Homo sapiens: one gene and its partners. Changing the gene in region 1 together with any one later gene gives a genetic interaction. Each region holds a gene or a part of one and is shown on either strand. Other genes may lie near its edges.

What was found. A genetic interaction does not mean that the proteins touch.
Region 2: changes in NUP43 (region 1) and TIMELESS together harm fitness more than expected from each alone (negative genetic interaction), as found in Homo sapiens cells (one large-scale study listed by BioGRID).
Region 3: changes in NUP43 (region 1) and NUP54 together harm fitness more than expected from each alone (negative genetic interaction), as found in Homo sapiens cells (one large-scale study listed by BioGRID).
Region 4: changes in NUP43 (region 1) and NUP85 together harm fitness more than expected from each alone (negative genetic interaction), as found in Homo sapiens cells (one large-scale study listed by BioGRID).

What each region holds. Positions count from the first base shown.
Region 1 is NC_000006.12:149,733,030-149,736,529, forward strand, and holds part of NUP43 (nucleoporin Nup43), read right to left. Parts: coding exon 3,442-3,500; intron 1-3,441. UniProt on the Homo sapiens protein: Component of the Nup107-160 subcomplex of the nuclear pore complex (NPC). The Nup107-160 subcomplex is required for the assembly of a functional NPC.
Region 2 is NC_000012.12:56,442,927-56,446,426, forward strand, and holds part of TIMELESS (protein timeless homolog), read right to left. Parts: intron 1-3,500. UniProt on the Homo sapiens protein: Plays an important role in the control of DNA replication, maintenance of replication fork stability, maintenance of genome stability throughout normal DNA replication, DNA repair and in the regulation of the circadian clock.
Region 3 is NC_000004.12:76,127,898-76,131,397, reverse strand, and holds part of NUP54 (nucleoporin p54), read left to right. Parts: intron 1-113; coding exon 114-168; intron 169-648; coding exon 649-742; intron 743-3,500. UniProt on the Homo sapiens protein: Component of the nuclear pore complex, a complex required for the trafficking across the nuclear membrane.
Region 4 is NC_000017.11:75,215,679-75,219,178, reverse strand, and holds part of NUP85 (nuclear pore complex protein Nup85), read right to left. Parts: intron 3,426-3,500; coding exon 3,356-3,425; intron 995-3,355; coding exon 873-994; intron 1-872. UniProt on the Homo sapiens protein: Essential component of the nuclear pore complex (NPC) that seems to be required for NPC assembly and maintenance. As part of the NPC Nup107-160 subcomplex plays a role in RNA export and in tethering NUP96/Nup98 and NUP153 to the nucleus.

The DNA of each region.
Region 1 (3,500 bases):
GGTGTGTGCCCAGCTAGGAATGACTGTCTTTTACGGAAAAGTTTTTTTTTAAATTGGTAAGTTGTCTTATTTTTCAATTCCTGTGTCATTAATATATGAAGATTATATTATTGGAAAAACTGAGAAAGATCCTAATGAAATATAAAAATGAATTTCTAAGAGGCAATATCCAATATTGGTTAATGCCAAGATTCTGAATACTTCTGGTCTTTATCACAGAAATAGCAACTGACTTCTACCAAACCAAAATTTGGAAATGTTCCAAGAATTTGGATCCAGTCTCAGATGGAGGGCTTTTTATTTTTTATTTGTTGATTATTTATCAAGAAAAACTATTTCTTAGCCCACATATGTATGCTTCATACTTTAGGAACATAGGTCAGTGACAAACTTCTACATAATTCAACTCAAAGAAATTCTCTCTCTCTTTTTGAAACAGGGTCTTGCTCTGGCGCCCAGGCTGGAGTGCAGAATGGCATGGTCATGGCTCACTGCAGCCTTGACCTCCAAGGCTTAAGCAATCCGCCTATCTCAGCCTCCTGAGTAGCTAGGACTACAGGTATGTATCACCATACCTGGCTAACTTTTGTATTTTTAACAGACATGGGGTTTCTCCATGTTGCCCAGGCTGGTCTCAAACAACTGGGCTCAAGAGATCTGTTTGCCTTGGACTCCCAAAGTGCTAAAATTACAGGCATGAACTACCGTGCCCAGCCCCAAAGAAATTCTATATATTCCAAAATCACTTTCAATTCTGAAAGATACCAGTCTTCCTCATTTCCTCAAAATCTGTTTTGTTTTGTTTTTTTTTTGAGACGGAGTTTCACTCTTGTTGCCCAGGCTGGAGTGCAATGGTGCGATCTTGGCTCACCACAACCTCTGCCTCCCAGGTTCAAGTGACTGTCCTGCCTCTGCCTCCCTAGTAGCTGGGATTACAGGCATGTGCCACCACGCCCGGCTAATTTTGTATTTTTAGTAGCGACGGGCTTTCTCCATGTTGGTCAGGCTGGTCTCGAACTCCTGACCTCAGGTGATCCACCTGCCTCGGCCTCCCAAAGTGCTGGGATTACAAGCATAAGCCACCGCCCCCGGCCATCATTTCCTCAAAATCTTTTATGGAATCATAATTTCTATAGAAATCTAATAATAAAAAAAATTAGCTAGGTGTAGTGGCATATACCTGTAGTCCCAGCTACTCAGAAGGGCAAGGCAAGAGGATCACTTGACCCCAGGAGGTTGAGGCTTAAGTGAGGTACCATGCCACTGCACTCCAGCCTGGGCAACATATTGAGACCCTGTCTCTACAAAAAATAAAAAATTAGCCGGGTGTAGTAGGGGTGCGTGCCTGTAGCCTCAGCTACTCGGGAGGCTGAGGTGGGAGGACTGATTGAGCCAGGGAGGCAAGGCTGAGGCTGCAGTGGGCTGTGATCATGCCACTGCATTCCAACCTGGGTGAGAGAGACCCCATTTTTAAAAAAATATATAGGGCCGGGCGCAGTGGCTCACACCTGTAATCCCAGCACTTTGGGATGCCAAGGCAGGCAGATAACCTGAGGTCAGGAGTTTGAGACCAGCCTGGCCAACATGGTGAAACCCCATTCCTACTAAAAATACAAAAATTAGCTAGGCATGGTGGCAAATGCCTTTAGTCCCAGCTACTAGGGAGGCTGAGGCAGAAGAATGGCTTGAACCCAGGAGGCAGAGGTTTCAGTGAACCGCGATTGTGCCACTGCACTCCAGCCTGGGCGACAGAACAAGACTCTGTCTCAAAAAAAAAAAAAAAAAAGGATAATCCATTCTGGCATGATATCAAAGACAGAGTGAGAAAATGAAAAATTTCTGTCCGGCTAAATCATCTCCACCAGAATCAAAAGAAAAAAAAAAGCTTATAAATCTATTGTTCATGTTAAAAAAAATGATGTGATGCAACAATAAATTGAGGAGCACAACATTTATTAACAAATATGACAGCCTGCATTTGCATGGGAAAAGGGCATTCTTGCACACTTCACTATGGCATATAAAATGGTATGATTTTTATCACTTTTCAGGGAGTGGGGTCTCACTATATTGTCCAGGCTGGAGTGCATAGGTGCAATCATAATGCACTACAGCCTTGAATTCCTGGACTCAAGCAATCCTCCTGCCTCGGCCTCCTGAGAAGCTGGTGCATGCCACTCACCTGGATTAAACTAGTATTATTAACTTTTTAAAGAGGTTATGTTGCCTAAGCTGGCCTCAAACTCTCAGGCTCAAGCAATCTTCCTGCCTCAGGCTCCTGAGTAGGAGGAGCCTGGAACTACAGGCATGTGCCAATGTGCCTGGCTTAAACTGGTATTATTTTTGTGTAGAAAAATCTGTCAATGCGCTATGCAAAATGTTTGGCCTAGCAATTCTACTTCTAAAAAATTATCCTAAGAAAATAAGTACATAAGGCTGGGCATGGGCATAATGGCTATGCCCAGCACTTTGGGAGAATCGTGTAAGTCCAGGAGTTCAAGGCTGCAATGAGCTATGATCACACCACTACTGCACTCTGGCCTAGGCAACAGAGAGAGACCCTGTCTCCAAAAAAAAAAAAAAAAAAAAAACACACACAGAGATAAATATCTAAGGATTCTAACTACAGTTTTGGATATAAGAATTAAACCTGTGGTTGATGTGGTGGCTCATAACTCATACCTGTAATCTCAGCACTTCCTGAGGATCACTTGAGCCCAGGAGTTTGAGACCAGCCTGGGCAATAAAGTGAAACCCCATATCTACAAAAAAAAAAACAAACAACAACAAAAAATCAGCTAGGCATGGTGACACACACCTATAGTCCTATCTACTTGGGAGGCTGATGCGGGAGGATCACCTGAGCCCTGGAAGTCAAGGCTGTAGTGAGCCGTGACTGCACCACTGCACTCCAGCCTGGGCGACAGAACCAGACCCTGTCTCTTTAAAAAAAAAAAAAAAAAAAAAACCAGGCACGGCGGCTCATGCCTGTAATCCCAGCACTTTAGGAGGCCGAGCTGGGCAGATCACCTCAGGTCAGGAGTTCAAGACCAGCCTGACCAACATGGAGAAACCCAGTCTCTACTAAAAATATAAAATTAGCCAGGTGTGGTGGTGCATGCCTGTAATCCCAGCTACTCGGGAGGCTGAGGCAGGAGAATCGCTTGAACCCAGGAGGCAGAGGTTGCGGTGGGCCAAGATAGCGCCATTGCACTCCAGCCTGGGCAACAAGGGTGAATCTCCGTCTCCAAAAAAACAAAAACAAATGTTAAAGAACTTAAATGTCGAGTAAAAAGAAATTACATAACTATTTAAATTTACACAATTCAGCCATTAAAAGCTATGATGTAAAATGATCCACATGTATCATTATGGAAAGGTGCTTATTATATGTCATATAACTCACCCAATATAAACTTTCTGTATCTTCACAATACTTACTTTCAGCTTCATGAGCCTTCAGCAGAGATACAGGCATAGTACCTTGTCTAACATCCCAA
Region 2 (3,500 bases), on another chromosome or scaffold:
CAATACTCTTATAATTTCCTATGCCTGTCTTTAATCTCTTAATCCCGTCATCTTCATAAACTGACAATGTATGTCATCTCAGGACCCTGTGATCACTGCATTAACTGTACAAATTGTTTGTAAAACGTGTGTTTGAACAATATGAAATCAGGGCACCCTGAGAAAGAACAGAACAACAGCGATTTTCAGGGAACAAGGAAAGATACCATAAGGTCTGACTGCCTGGGGGGTCAGGCAGAATAGAGCCATAGTTTTCTTCTTGCAGGGAGCCTATAAACGACATGTGAGTAGGAGAAATATCACTGAATTCTTTTCCCAGCAAGGAATATTAATAATTGATAACCCTGGGGAAGGAATGCATTCCCAGGGGTAGGCCTATAGACGACTGCTCTGGGATTATCTGTCTTATGCGGTTGAGATAAGGGATGAAATATGCCCTGGTCTCCTGCAGTGCCCTCAGGCTTACTAGGATTGGGAAATTCCAGCCTGGTGAATTCTAGTCAGACTGGTTTTCTGCTCTCAAACCCTGTTTCCTGTTAAGATGTTTATCAAGACAATGTGTGCCCAGTGGGACATGGACCCTCATCAGTAATTCTAATTTTGCCCTTGCCTTGTGATCCTGCTCTGCCCTTTTGCCTTGTGATCTTTTATTGCCCTTTGAAGCATGTGATCTCTGTGATCCACTCCCTATTCGTACCCCCCTCCCCTTCTAAAATCCCTAATAAAAACTTGCTGGTTTTGCGGCTCAAGTCGCCATCATGGTCCTACCAATACGTGATGGCACCCACAGAGGCCCAGCTGTAAAATTCTTCTCTTTGTAGTCTTTCTCTTTATTTATGAGACCAGCTGACACTTAGGGAAAATAGAAAAGAACCTACATTGAAATATTGGGGGCTGGTTCCCCCGATAACATGTATAGCCTGCAACCTGAGCAGGGCCTTCAGCCTGGTCCAGCAAATCATTTCGGTATTCTTTTTTTTTTTTTTTTTTGAGACAGAGTCTTGCTCTGTCATACAGGCTGGAGTGCAGTGGCGTGATTTCGGCTCACTGCATCTCCGCCTCCTGGGTTCAAGCGATTATCTTGCCTCAGCTTCCCAAGTAGCTGGGATTACAGGTGCCCGCCACCACGCTTGGCTAATTTTTGTATTTTTAGTAGAGACATGGTTTCACCATGTTGGCCAGGCTGGTCTGGAACACCTGACCTCGTGATCCACCTGCCTCGGCCTCCCAAAATGCTGGGATTACAGGCATGAGCCACCGTGCCCAGCCTCATTTCTGTATTCTTGGTCCCCTTCATTGTCTCTTCCCAAAGAACCACTATTCCTAACTTTCATCATTATCCTCAAGCCCCTTCACTCTACTGCTTCCTTGCCTCCCACCTGGTTTATCTGCTTCCTTCCTGTTAGGAACAATTGAGGTTATCAGACATGAACTCTCTCAACTCTCTCCACCCAAGCCTAAAAACATACATATTTCAAACACCCACCCTTAGTTCTTTGCTTCTAATCTAAGTACTCTGTGATCCTCATTAATCACTTCCTGTCCCTTAGTTGGTTATTCCTTATTTCCAACCTTCCCTTTATACTAGCCCCATCCCCATATATTATGAGTTGCTCAAGGCTATTCCATCTGTTTTTTTCTTTTGAGGCAGTATCTCAAAAGTGTAGTGATGTGCAGTGGTGCGATCTCGGCTCACTGCAGCCTCAAGCCCCCAGGCTCAAGCTATCCTCCGACCGCAGCCTCCCAAAGTGCTGGGATTACAGGCATGTGCCCCCACACCTGTCCTAGCTCATCTTAAGGGGGGAAAAATCCAACATAAAATAAAACTTTCCCCTTTGATCTCTTATTGGCTGTTCCTCCTCCTACTTAAGTGCTGATTTTCCTTAGGCCTGCATCTTTAGCCTTCTTCCCTTCTCACTGTACGCGGCCTGATTGGGCAAACTCACCCTCTCCCATGCACTTCAACTACCACCCAAGCCAGAAGCCAGCAAATCTGTATTTCTGGCCCCTCTGAGCTATTGAGTTGACAATCTCGTATGTTAAACTGACTAACTGAATAGCATTCTCTACCTTTATGTCTCAAAGATACCTTACACTCAATAGGTCTAAAGCTGAACTCATCTTCCCAAGTCTGTCTCCACTTTGGCTCTCTCAAGGACTGACACTATCTCCTCAGTGAAGAAGGCTAAGAGTTTCACCTTATTAAAAGAAACCTAGGGCCAGGCGCAGTGGCTCATGCCTGTAATCCCAGCACTTTGGGAGGCTGAGGTGGGTGGATCACCTGAGGTTGGGAGTTTGAGACCAGCCTGACCAACATGGAGAAACCCCATCTCTACTAAAAATACAAAATTAGCTGGGTGTGGTGGTGCATGCCTGTAATCCCAGCTACTTGGGAGGCTGAGGCAGAATTGTTTGAACCCAGGAGGTGGAGGTTGCGGTGAGCCGAGATCGCACCATTGCACTCCAGCCTGGGAAACAAGAGCGAAACTCCACGTCAAAAAAAAAAAAAAAAAAAAAAAAAAAAAAAAGAGGCTGGATGTGGTGGCTCATGCCTGTAATCCCAGCACTTTGGGAGGCCGAGGCGGGTGGATCACCTGAGGTCGGGAGTTCAAGACTAGCCTGACCAACATGGAGAAACCCTGTCTCTACTAAAAATACAAAATTAGCTGGGTGTAGTGGTGCATGCCTGTAATCCCAGCTACTCAGGAGGCTGAGGCAGGAGAATCGCTTGAGGCGGAGGTTGCAGTGAGCTGAGATCGCACCACTGCACTCCAGCCTGGGCAACAAGAGCGAAACTCTGTCTCAAAAAAAAAAAAAAGAAACCTAGGAGTCACCTTAGCTCCATCTCACTTAACTTCCTTAAGTTCTTCTATCAGTTGCTGTCTATCCTTCTATCCCAATTGCTACTGCCTTAGTTCAGTTCCTGAGTAGCTCTTGCTTAGGTTACTCAACCTCTTCCTATCCTCTTTCTCTGCCTCCAGACTTTTTTTCTTTTTTGAAAGAGGGTCTCACTTTGTCACCCAGACTGGAGTGCAGTGGTGCAATCACAGCTCCCGGCAGCCTCAACCTCCCAGGCTCAAGTGACTTTCCCACCTCAGCCTCCCAAATAGCTGGGACTATAGGGTACATCACCACACCCTGCTAATTTTTGTATTTTTTCTAGAGACAAGGTTTTGTCATGTTGCCCGGGCTGGTCTTTAACTCCTGGGCTCAAGCGACCCACCCACCTGGGCTCCCAAAGTGCTGGGATTACAGGCATGAATGCAGCTGCCTCCAGTCTTGTTCAATCTAGCCTCAATATGGTTACCTGATTTAGGCATATAACAATCCTGCTTAGAACACTTCAATGGATACATAAGAAACTTCATAGTGATCGTCTCTGAGAACTAGGGGATCTAGGATAGGAGAAATATTTGTCTTTCCCTTTGGTACTATTTGAATTCTTTACTATTAGCATGCATTACTATACAAAACTAAAGTTTCAGTGACCTCCAGTGCCT
Region 3 (3,500 bases), on another chromosome or scaffold:
CACTTTTCATTATAGCTTCTAGGTATAGGGTCTTGCTTTAGGAAAGCCTTTGTCATACACATATTATAAAAATAGAAAATTGTTTTAGAAAAAATATTTTTTATTTGTGGTAGGTGTTGATCCTATTATCTGGGAACAGGCCAAGGTAGATAACCCTGATTCTGAAAAGTAAGTATGTCTTCATCTTGTTTCATTTAAGAACTAATATTTGCTACTAGGAAAGCAAACATGGGAGCTATTAATTATAATTCTTACATATGAGACAAGTTTATTTTCATTTTCCTGGCCTTTAAAAAATATTGATTATTGTCCAGCTAAAGCTTCAGCCAAAACAAAAAGAAAAAAATAAGAAAAAAAAAGATTATGGTAAGGCAGCATAGCATAGTGAGAACTAACTAGGAGCGGAAAATTCTATTTGCGTTTTCATTTAATAATGTAATGTTTTGACTGAACTGTATTTCCTCATTTGTAAAATAGGGAGGTTGAATAAAATCTCTTTGGTATAACATGGTTATCTCATAGTCATAGATCTGCCTTAGAGCCCTAGAAAGTTGATGTAAAATTACATGAGTGTTACTAAAACCTTCACTTCTTGTATTTTGTAGTAATAGGCTTAAGGTCTGAAAATTGTTCACTGCGTTTCTTCAGGTTAATTCCTGTACCAATGGTGGGTTTTAAGGAACTTCTCCGAAGACTGAAGGTTCAAGATCAGATGACTAAGCAGCATCAAACCAGATTAGATGTAAGCATTTAGCTTTTTATTCCCTGGCCCTGGAAGTAGGGAAAGGGATTATAGACATTTAATTCTTTTTAGTATATGTGCTACTGTTTTATCTTAATCAGGAAACAATGTAGCATACACTGCAATTTAATAGTTTTATACAACTACCTTCTTTATGATAGAAGTCCCCAAATCACATGAATCTGATTTGATATAATAATGAATTTAGAATTCTTGTCTTAGTGGATTAATTAGACTGTCATTTCCAGTTTCAGCCAGGGATTGCATATTATTATTTATGGGGCCTTATGAAAATGAAGGTTATAGTAATGATTATTTTATGTTGACATATAATTGTCTTGGTATATTATTGTATGTTGATAAAATTAATGCTTAAATATACTTAATATTTTATTTCATAAAGTAGACTTTTTTAGGAGACCAGGGTGGGTGGATCACTTGAGATCAGGAGTTCAAGACAAGCCTGGCCGACTTGGCAAAACCTGGTCTGTACTAAAAAATTCAAAAATTAGCTGGGTGTCGTGGTGCACGCCTGTAATGCCAGCAACTTGGGAGGCTGAGGCATGAGAATTGTTTGAACCCGGGAGGCAGAGGTTGCAGTGAACAGAAATCGTGCCACTGCACTCCAGCCTGGGCGACAGAGTGAGACTCCTCAAAAAAAAAAAAAAAAAAAAAAAAAAAAAAAAAAACTTTCATAATTAAATACTTAAAGATTCTTAAAGGTCAGAGAAATTTCTATGATTTCAATTCTTTTAACTTTGCTAAGGTTTTTTTTTTTTTTTTTTTTTTTTTGAGACGTCTCTCGCTCTGTCGCCCAGGCTGGAGCACAGTGGCGCGATCTAGGCTCGCTGCAAGCTCCACCTCCTGAGTTCACGCCATTCTCCTTCCTCAGCCTCCGGAGTAGCTGGGACTACAGGCGCCTGCCACCACGCCCGGCTAATTTTTTGTATTTTTAGTAGAGACGGGGTTTCACCGTGTTAACCAGGATGGTCTCGATCTCCTGACCTCGTGATCCACCCATCTCGGCCTCCCGAAAGTGCTAGGGTTACAGGCGTGAGCCACTGCGCCCGGCCAACTTTGCTGAGGTTTTATAACCCAGGAGCCTATGAAAATAATGTGTATTCTGCAGTCCTTGGGTGAAGTTTTCTATTAATGTCAGTGAGATCCAGTTGGTTGATAGTATTGCTCAGTTCTGTATTCTTGTTGTTTTTTCTGTCTGCTAGTTTGAGAAGAGATTTGAAATCTACAGCAACACTTACGGATTTGTGTTTTTCTCCTTTCATTTCTCAGTTTTTGCTTCATGTATTAATAGTTTGAAGGGCTGTTGTTATATAGGATTGTTGTGTTTTCTTGGCAAATTTACCTTTTATTATTATATCATATCCCTCTTAATCCTCGGTAAGTTTTAAATCTTCTCTAATGGCCTTTTCTTTTATTGTTTTTAATCGATACATAACTACATATTTATGGGGCATAGTGTGATAATTCAATACATGGATATAGTGTGTAATGATCAAATAAAGTAATTAGCATATCCATTACCCCATACATTTATCATTTGTTGGTATCATGGGAAATTCACTCCTATAGCTATTTGAAACACAATAAATGGTTGTGAATTATAGTTACCTATAGTGCTATAGAACACTGGAACTTAATCCTCCTATCCAGCTGTACTTTTGTATCTGTTAAGCAACCTTTGGCAGTTCCCTACTCCTACTCTTTCTCCACCTCTAGTAGCCACTATTCTACTCTTTTCTTCTACTAAATCAACTTTTTTTAGCTTCCACATATGAGTGAGAACATGCAGAATTTATCTTTCTGCACGTGGCTTATTTCACTTAACAAAATGTCTTCCAAGTTCATCTATGTTGCTGCAAATGGTAGCACTTCATTCTTTTTCATGATTAAATAGTATTCTATTGTGTGTGTATATATGTGTACACATACACACCATGTTTTCTTTATCCATTCATCTGTTCATGGACACTTACTCAAGACACTCAGAAGTCTTTGTCTGGTGTTAACATAGCCACGCTACCTTTCTTTTGATAAAAAGTGTTTGTATGGCATACCTTTGTCCATCTTTTTGCTTTTAACCTACCTATATTGTTATATTTGAAGCGAGATTCTTGTAGACAGCAAAAAGTTTGGATTTAGTCCTACCATTTATTTGTTTTGTGTTTGTAGCCTCTGTTTTTCATTCCTGTTTCTACTTTTCTGCTTTCTTTTGAGTTATTTGGACTTTTTTTTTTTTTTCAGCATTTCCTTTTAATCTATTATTTCAAGTCTTAGAGCAGTACTTCTTAGTAGTGGCTTGTGGTGGTGGTGGTGATTTTGTCTCCCAGAGCACATTTGGCAATGTCTGGAGACTCTTGGTTGGGGAGTACTACAGGCGTCTAATGTGTAGAGGCCCAGATGCTGCACACATTCTGCAGTGTACAGAACAGTACTCCCACAACAAGGAATTACCCAAGATTAATAGTGCTGAAGTTGAGAAACCTTTCTCTAGGTAATACGATGTATCTCCTCCCACTATAACTAGCAGACTTCCCTTGGAGCTCCCTTTCAGCATTTATGCTCATTTCCAGGTTTGAGGCTGGGTTGAAACCAGACTAGGGACGCCTGAGGGGAAAAATGGGTAAACTCACCACAAGTTTATTGGTACTTTAAATTCCTATCTTACCTGATCTTCCTGCCAGAGTTCCCAAATAGCTGCCCCGTGTATTCCATCCAAGTTTTATAGCTATATTAAATG
Region 4 (3,500 bases), on another chromosome or scaffold:
TTGTCCTCACAATCTGTTCCCAATTTCAGGCTTTATAAGTTTAGTTGACTTTCCATTAGCCCAGTCAACTAGCGATCTCCTCCCTGCCACCTCCCAATTGGGTCAGTCAGCAGAGGTGAATGGAAATACCTAACACATAGAAAATACATCCATATACACATATACGACATGCTGACTTCGAAACTGATGATCCAAAGTAATGTGCAAGCTCATTTACATCCAACCCTGTATGCACCCCAGCCCCTGTCAATTGGTTTTATATCATTACCCAGGCATGGTGGTTGGCACTTGTGGTCCCAGCTACTTGAGAGGCTGAGGTGGTAGGACCGCACAGGAGGCGGAGGTTGCAGTGAGCAAGATCAGGCCACTGCACAACAGCCTGGGGAACAGAGTCGGACTATCTTTTCTCTTTTATATTTTTATTTATTAATTTGTTTTGAGATGGAGGGTCTCACTTTGTTGCCCAGGCTAATCTCAAACTCCTGGGCTCAAGAGATTCCTGACTTGGCCTCCCAAAGTGCTGGCTGGAATTACAGGCATGAGCCACCGCACCCAGCCGAGACCCTGTCTCAAAAAAAAAAAAAAAAAAACGGTTTTGTATTCCTTTTTGTGTCTTCTCTTCCTTAGATCCACAAAGAAATCAAATTTCCTTTTACCCTGGAAAAGTCTTCAAAGCATTATTTTTCTTACATGGTACCTCGGTTTTAGACTCTCCCATAGAGCAGGGAAGAAAAGATCCAAAAGAGTCTCCATAGTAACAGACTCCAAAAGCCAGCCTACTGCTGGAGGCTCAGTGGGTGTCCTCAGACCCACCCGGCAGCACCAGGGACAGTAGGACACATGGTGGGAGGTGGGGGCCCGGCCTGTCTTACCAAGTTCCAGAAGCTGTCATGTTTGCTTGGATTCTCACTGCCCAGAACATCTGCCGACAAACTGTCCACCTCGCACACATGGAGCCGGACCCAGTCAAGGAGATGGAGGAGGAGAGGGCCAGCTGGGAGGAGAGACTCTCATCACACACAAAAGCCTCAGCTTCATCTGCAGCAAGTTCCTTTATCCAAGGAACAGAGAACTTTAAGGCAGACAAGCTGACTACATAGGTTTATCCCTTTTAAGCAGTCACACACATGGTCCTGAATGACAGACTGTGCTAGGAAAAAGCAAATGCACTTTCACCAAATATTACTTCTGTGCCAGGCAGCTCCATCTTTAACTGACCCCAGAAAGGGGTGAACATGGAATGCAGACCTCACTACCCCACACTCCAGATTCTTCACAAATACTTAATAGCTACATAAGTAATGGCCGTTTAGGAACCAACAATGACTAGATAGCAAGCAGCCAGGTATGCAATGATGATAAAAACATAGGGCCAGGGGGCTGGTGGTGCACACCTGGAATCCCAGCACTTTCGGAGGCTAAGGCAGGTGGATCATCTAAGCTCAGGAGTTCAAGACCAGCCTGGACAACATGGTGAAACCCTGTCTCTACTAAAAATACAAAAATTAGCCGGGCGTGGTGGCGCATGCCTGTAATTCCAGCTACTCAGGTGGCTAAGGCAGAATTGCTTGAACCCAGGAGGCAGAGGTTGCAGTGAGCCAAGATCGCACAACTGCACTCCAGCCTGGGTGACGGAGTGAGACTCTGTCTCAAAAAACAAAACAAAACAAAACATATGGCCGGGCATGGTAGTTCATGTCTGTAATCCCAGCACTTTGGGAGGCTGAGGCAGGCAGATCGCTTGAGCCCAGGAGTTTGACACTAGGCTGGGCAACATAGGGAGACCCCATCTCTACAAAAAAAAATAAAAAATTAGCCGAGCCAGGAATGGTGGCTCACGCCTATAATCCCAGCATTTTGCGAGGCCAAGATGGGCAGACTGCTTGAGCCCAAGAGTTCAAGAACAGCCCGGGCAACATAGCGAAATTTCCTCTCCACAAAAAATACAAAAATTAGCCGGGCGTGGTGGTGCAGGCCTGTGGTCCCAGCTACTTGGGAGGCTGGGCAGGAGGATTGCTTGAGCCCAGGAAGTCGAGGCTTCTGAGCTGTGATCACGCCACTGTACTCCAGCATGGGTGACAGAGCAAGACCCTGTCTCCCCTCCCCCAGCATATACACACAAAAAATTAGCCTAGCATGGTGGCACGTGCCTGTAGTCCCAGCTACTCAGGAGGCTGAGACAGGAGGATCGCTTGAGCCTGGGAGGTCCAGACTGCAATAGCTGTGATTGTACCACCACACTCCAGCCTAAGTGACAGAGTGAGAACTTGTCTCAATCAATCAATAAAAATAAAATGAAATAAAATGGCAGAGTACAGCCAGCACTCCGTATCCATGATGTAGAACCTGCAGATACAAAGAGCCAACTGTAACCTCCTCAAAAATCCACTGGAGAAGGGAGGCCTCTGAACAACCAACTCTAATTTCAAGTTCCTCACTTCTTTAGTGAGAGTATGAATAAAATGCTAGGGCTACACAGAGGTTACTACTCATTTATGGAAAATAGCAAACATAAATCCTTAAAAGAAATGCAAAAAAGCTGCAGCAGATCCACAGAGAGCTCATACAGGCCATGACACTATACTGACCACAGTTTAATTCAAGATCAACAGAAGGCTGGGCACGGTGGCTCACACCTGGAATCCCTGCACTTTGGGAGACCGAGGCAGGCAGATTACCTGAGGTTGGGAGTTCGAGACCAGCCTGACCAACATGGAGAAACCTCATCTCCACTAAAAATACAAAATTAGCCAGGCGTGGCAGCGCATGTCTGTAATCCCAGCTACTCAGGAGGTTGAGGCAGGAGAATCGCTTGAACCCAGGAGGTGGAGGTTGCGGTGAGCTGAGATCACGCCATTGCACTCCAGCCTGGGCAACAAGAGTGAAACTCTGTCTCAAAAAAAAAAAAAGATCAACAGAAAAATTCCCATTGGCAGAGTTCATACCCATTGGCAGAGTTAACACACAGAGTTGCCCTGTCCCAATGATTCATGACAGAATTCCCAATGTGACTTTGCCTCTCACCACCTAATCCTACCCCACATTCATAAAACTTTCTTAAGCTTGGCCAGTCCATGATGTTAACACTGACACCCCCTTTCACACACTAGTTTAATATTTCTCAGTACTTGTCAGGGTTTAGGTTTCTTGGAGGCACTCTGCATGATTCTTTTTGCAGCACCTGACAAAACGGTCAGGTTTCTTTGGGTGTTTTCTAACGACTTCCCGTGGTTATAATGATGGAAAGAACATTCTCAGGAATAAAACACTCATCACCATGCACAGGAAAGATGAGGAAAGAGCAGAAGATGGAAGGGGACACCTATGAGATTATGGTGAGATATTCCATGCCTACCTGGGGCCACTTCAATAAAAAGAATCTCACACAGGTTCCAGATGAGCTCCATTGCTGACAAAATGGAGACCTAAGGAAGAAATGGGGACAGGTTTCACCTGAAATGATTCCTGAGCTTTGCTCTCAGAGCCAAGGGATAAAGCAG